Linked DNA regions of Homo sapiens: region 1 is linked to region 2. The links come from fine-mapping of genetic effects on gene expression. A gene starts in region 2. The other region holds a variant in brackets. All regions are shown on one strand. Distances are from middle to middle.

Region 1 (2,914 bases), 49 kb after region 2:
TGTTCAAAGCTCATCCCACCTGTATGCAGAGTGTGTTAGAAACTGTGCTGGATGTGGTTGTTCTCTTTCTAGAAGGTAGGGCTCCCATGACAGCCATATAGGTTCTCTTGGTTGCATAAGTAAACATAAATAAACCAGTAAACAAAATGCCTGCTTTCTGTGTGAATACGTTGTCATTTGATGTCATGGTGTTAAGTATGAAGGTGCTATAAAGAAAAGGGGAGGCCAGGTGCGGTGGCTCACCCCTGTAATCCCAGCACTTTGGGAGGCCAAGGTGGGTGGATCACGAGGTCAGGAGATCGAGACCATCCTGGCTAATACGGTGAAACCCCTTCTCTACTAAAAATAGAAAGAAAAAAAATTTAGCCAGGCGCAGTGGTGGGCGCCTGTAGTCCCAGCTACTCGGGAGGCTGAGGCAGGAGAATGGCGTGAACCCGGGAGGCGGAGCTTGCAGTGAGCCGCGATAGCGCCACTGCAGTCCGGCCTGGGCCAAAGAGTGAGACTCTGTCTCAAAAAAAAAAAAAAAAAAAAGAAAAGGGGAGAGTCCGCCCCTCTTGTAGTTAGGGAGGAAGTTCAATTTTGTTAAAGACTTGAGGGTAAGAGGAAAGTAATTCAATGAGTGAGCTGAGACAGAAGATGAATGAGGCGAGGTGAGCCTCCATCTTGTCACTTGTCCCCTCCCATCTTCAGCCCTCGTGGGGCTGAAGTGATTCAGCCTGAGTGTCCTTGGCCCTGCCCTGGGTCCCCCAGGTGCATACTCTCCTGCATGTGCTTACACCCTCAGGCTTGCCTGCAGTCTCCATGCTGGTGCCCCCAAACAGCCCCTGGAACTACTTCTTTTGGCATTCTGCAGTCTACTCTCCATGTGGCAGCTGTGCATTGACCTTTTAAAACAACCAAATAACATTGTTCCCTGTCCCAACCTTGCAGTGATTTGCAATCACTTTTTAATTAAATTCTGAACTCTGTTTTAAAAAGCCCTATGCTGATCTTGGCTAGTAAGATAGCTTCTCCTCTTTGATGATAACAATATTATTTGTATTAATAATCTACATCAGTAAAAATATTAATGATGGTGACAGTGATGACTGCAGCTAACACTTACTCTGAGTCGTACACTGTTCTGAGCATTGTATCTATTCACTCATTAACCCCAGGAACATCTTTGAGGAAGGTACTCATGTGCTCCCATTTTGTAAGTTTTATAAATGTGAAAATGGAGATATGAACCCAAGGGCACAGTGAGTTGGAGGCAAAGATGAGCCCTGAGCCAGTGCTGTGGCTGTGGATCAAGGAGTTTGTGTGGGACACTGTCTAGGCTGCTCATCTCTGTGGTCTTCATAGCTGGCCCTGTCTTGCCATTTATCAGAGTTCTGTGTGAATGTCCAGCTCCTCCCAGGGGCCTTCTCTGTTGACCAGAGGCTCTGAGAGCCACTTAATCACTTTTGATTAACTC[C/T]AAGTTTGTAAGTCCCACGTTGTTCCCATCTGTGTCCTGGGACCTACAACAGTAAGGTTACCTGGGCCAGTACTCTTTGAGTGGCAGGTGGGGCCGGCTCTGATGTGTGGGCTAGCTATGGAGCCCTGACCTGAAGCCTGGGATCCAAGTGTGGGTAGTCCTAGCTGCGAGGGTGGCACAGAGAGTCCAGAGACTGAACAGAGGCTGGGCAGGGCGGGTAGACATGGCGAGTCTTTGACTGGGCTGTATGTAGGGTTTCTGATGCTTCCATACTCCAGGCAGAATAAATTGGTGCTATTGTTGGCGGGAGCAAAATTGGACAATGTGGAATTCATTTCTCCCTGGAAGACTGGGTGGTTCTTGGTACTGAAAGTCCTCCCAGGATATAATATCTTCAAGAAAACAAAAGATAACCTCACTAGTCATATCAAAGTAGTTTAGTCTAAGAATCCCTAAAAATCCAGTGTTGTCATGCTATGAGTAAAGCTAAGAAACCAACATGACAGTGCCCTCCACATACTGACTGTTGTGAAAACACGTCTTGTTATTTTTGGAAAGTCCTCTTGGTAGACCACTAACATTTTCGCCCCCAAAACAGCAGGAGCAGTAAATAACAACCTTCTAGATAAATCAAATGGGAAAGCATTGCCAGAATTTGCTATATCAAGTGCTGTGAATAGTGGCACCCAGCAGGGAAATTATGGAGAGAAAAGTGCTTTTATTTGCTTTTCAAAGTTGGTGGGACTGTGGGAATATGGGAGATGGGAAGAAAAGGAGGAAAAAGAGAAAAATACTGTCATCTTGAGTTGAAAATGGGTGCTAAACCTTTTTGCTTAGGACTGTGATTCAGTATCAAGGGAAGGAAACTGTTAACTCAGGTATTACTAATAGCCTCATGTTGGTGAGAGAGAGAGCTCACATGCAAGAAGACTAGGTAAGAGCTTATGAGTCTCACAACAGGCTAAGAATTGGGATCATTATTGTTCCCATTTTATAGATGAGGAAATTGAGGCTTTAATGAGATAGAGGAATTTGCTCAGATAACACACCTAGTATGAGCTGAAGCCCAGGATTCAAACTATGGGCTGGCTTCAACCCCATGGTCTGAATTGTCACAGCTGCAGACTTAAACCTCCTCCCCTTTCCCTCTCTTTGAGTGTTAGTTGGCATGATATATTTGTGAAAACTAACTAAAACCAGAAAAATCGAAAAAAAAAAATCCTGTGTCAAGTTAGTAATAATGATCACAGGCTTTTTTTTTTTTTTTTTTTTCAATTTTTCTGGTTTTCTCACTAGTTAGTGTCCCTTTTCTATTCCAGAATTAGGTCCAGGAGTCACCTTGCATTTAGGCATTATGTTCTCGTCACCTTCAGTCTGTGGCAATTTCCATCTTCTTTTGATTTTCATGGACGTTCACACTTTTGAAGAGGCCAGGTATGTTGTAGAATGTTCCCAATT
Region 2 (2,914 bases):
GAGACAGGGTTTCACTGTGTTGGCCAGGCTGGTCTCGAACTCCTGATCCTCCCGCCTCGGCCTCCCAAAGTGCTGGGATTACAAGCATGAGCTACTGTGCCGGCCAAATCTTGCTGTCTTCTAGTAGGCTCATTAAAGAGATTTGCAAAAATGTAAAACTATGTTACTCCTCTCACTGAACTTTTATTGCTTTGAAGAACATTATTTTTTGCATAAAAGTATGTTAACATGTAATGTGTTTTATGGTCATTTAAAAATGATTAAATAAATATTTAAACATTTTATGTTTTAATTTCTAATGTGGTAAATATTGATAAGCATAACCCATATCAACAAATGTTCTTTGGAATGTTCAACAAATTTTAAGAGGATTAATGGTCCCTAAATCAAGAGTTTCAGAACCACTGTTCTAGGGCAATTTACCTGAGTTGGATTTTATTTACAATTCATTAAAGCTTATACACTATGAAGACATGTTAACTTGCATGTTTTAATCTAGAAGAGGTGCAAATCATTTCTATACACTAGAAATGATAATCTATGGTTTTATCATCTTGTAGAACACCAGCCAGCTTTGTATCCAACCTAATCTTACTCTAATGCTTTGTCAAAATGTTTAATCTCCACTTCCTCAAAATGCTTTTGAACCAGCTTTACCATATCATTGTTAATTTGCTGAAGAAATCTTGGATATGTGTTCATGATATATTTGTATGAGTGTCATGCTTTTTACTTTTTTAAGATTATACTTTGACAGACACTAACAACATATGTATATATGACGTATATATGTATATACATACTATACACACACATACACGTACATATTTCACAACGATGGCATACGGATTCTCTATTCTGAATCTAGCTCTTTCCACTTAATATACGTTGAATGCACTCTTTATTTTCTTCGTCATCTTGACTTTCTTCTGATGCAACGCCCTGAGTTTAACTCACAGATCTGTTAATAAGAAACCCATACATCCCACATATACGCATTTTCCCGTCTCTGGCTCACTAACAAAAAGCTTACCCTAGCCCCATCTTTAACCATAGGTTCCAAATACCCAGGCTGGAATTCAACACAGAAATAAGAAAGGATCCACAGACAACGTGACAAAAATCCGAGCAGTCACGTGACACTGCACGCCCCATAATTTTTTTCCGCCCGCTTCAAACATGGCGGTCAAGCCCTCGCAGCGCAGCAGAAGCCACGGGCTTCCTTCCGCGTAGGAACCTCCTTGCTGCCCTTGTCGGGCTCTTTTGTCTAAGACCACCTCAAGGCAAAGCCCGTGGGGCAGCTGGGTCTGGGGAAAACAGCCCGGGGCCGCGGGGGCCGAACGAGCACGGACCGGAAGTTCCGCAGCCGCGCCGTCCGGCGGAGCCGTTGGCTGCGGACGCCGGAAGTGGCCAGTCGGCAGGTCTGAGGCGGCGCTGTGTGTGTGAAGCGTACCTAGGGCGGGAGGCGACATGGAGACAGGGGCGGCCGAGCTGTATGACCAGGCCCTTTTGGGCATCCTGCAGCACGTGGGCAACGTCCAGGATTTCCTGCGCGTTCTCTTTGGCTTCCTCTACCGCAAGACAGACTTCTATCGCTTGCTGCGCCACCCATCGGACCGCATGGGCTTCCCGCCCGGGGCCGCGCAGGCCTTGGTGCTGCAGGTGAGGCGGGCGGGCCTGCGGTCTGGGGAGCCGCCGCCCCCGGCCTGCCCTGACTCCTGGCGCCCGCTCCTCCAAGCTCTCCCAGCCTGTTTCCTCCTTTTCCTGGTGTCCTGGGGTTGAGCTTGTGAGAATGGCTTCAGTAATTTGAAGCGCGGATTGGATGTCAGCTTATTCCGCTGAGGTGTTCGCTCCGGACGTCCTGAGGTTTCAGAAGTAGTAAGCCGACTGTTAAGAGCCCTACTCAGCACCCGCCAGCGCGTACCCCTCACGGTGCTGGGGGCCGCTAGTCAGGGAGCGAAATCCATGCAGGCCAGACAGAAGGAAGGACATTTACAGCAACAGAAACGTGCATGCCCCAGAACTACCAAAGACTTGAGCTGGCGGGGATGACGGAGGCATTGTGTTGATCAATGGGTGTGGTCGCTTGTTTGAAATGTGACTTCCCAGGTCAAAGACTGTCAATGTAGTGCTTATTAAAATTTCTATTTGAGCTTAATTCCGTACCCTCCAGGTTAAGTTTATTGTATGTTGGAAACGCTGTCAATACTCATTCAGTGAAGTTGACTGGGCACTTTTGAATGTAGTGGTAAGCAACCTTTTGCTGAATGTAGTTTACACTCTTAGTTGCCGCAGGTGAGGGTGATACGGGTGTTTAAGTAATGGTTTCTCTCTCCTTGTGACACAGTTAAAGAGAGAAAACCCAGAAAGTAATAGAAAACTTTTTAAGGGCAATTATTTGATGGAGCCCATTGTAAAGAAAGGAAATAGAAATGATGGTTGAGAAGTGAAGTTTTTATAAGAGAGGTGGGACTTCTGATGAGATTAAAAGAAACTATTCAGCCAAGTATTAAGCCTATTTGTAGAAACCCAAGAAGATAGAAATGCTGATGATACCTCCCTCAGTTCTCTAGATGTTACAGTTTATAAAATGCTTCAGATGTTTCCTCCTGAAGTCTTAATGCATGCTGCAGGTTGGTAAGATGTTACTTTCCTCAGCAGAAGCCAAAGCTTTGAATGTCTTGGTAGCTACCAGGGTAATAGGGCCAAACGAGGAATGGGGTTCCATTAGGATTCAATTTCAGAACTTAAGGCTATTCCTCGTCCTTGTCAGTGGCATAAGTGCCATCTTAGTGATGAGAGAGCTGTTGGAGGTGGCCTTTAGCAGGATCTTATGGCAGGTTAATGAAGTCTTGCCATTTGATCTTCAGTGTCTCTGTGAAACAGATAAGTTTCAAGTTTACGTACCAATTCA

The links. PIP is the estimated chance that this variant, and not a neighbour inherited with it, causes the effect.
Region 1: its variant is fine-mapped to the expression of NUDCD3 in whole blood (INTERVAL, PIP 0.96).

Annotation. Positions count from the first base shown.
Region 1 is chr7:44,440,311-44,443,224 of GRCh38, reverse strand. All of the region lies in intron 2 of NUDCD3 (NudC domain containing 3), which reads left to right. Among named protein-coding and RNA genes, the nearest start is that of NUDCD3, 49 kb to the left of the region's middle. The variant C/T (reference allele first, on the strand shown) is at 1,457.
Region 2 is chr7:44,489,157-44,492,070 of GRCh38, reverse strand. NUDCD3 (NudC domain containing 3) reads left to right here and starts at 1,413. Exons shown (of 6, transcript NM_015332.4): 1 at 1,413-1,662. The coding sequence starts at 1,471. RefSeq lists a silencer at 1,662-1,831.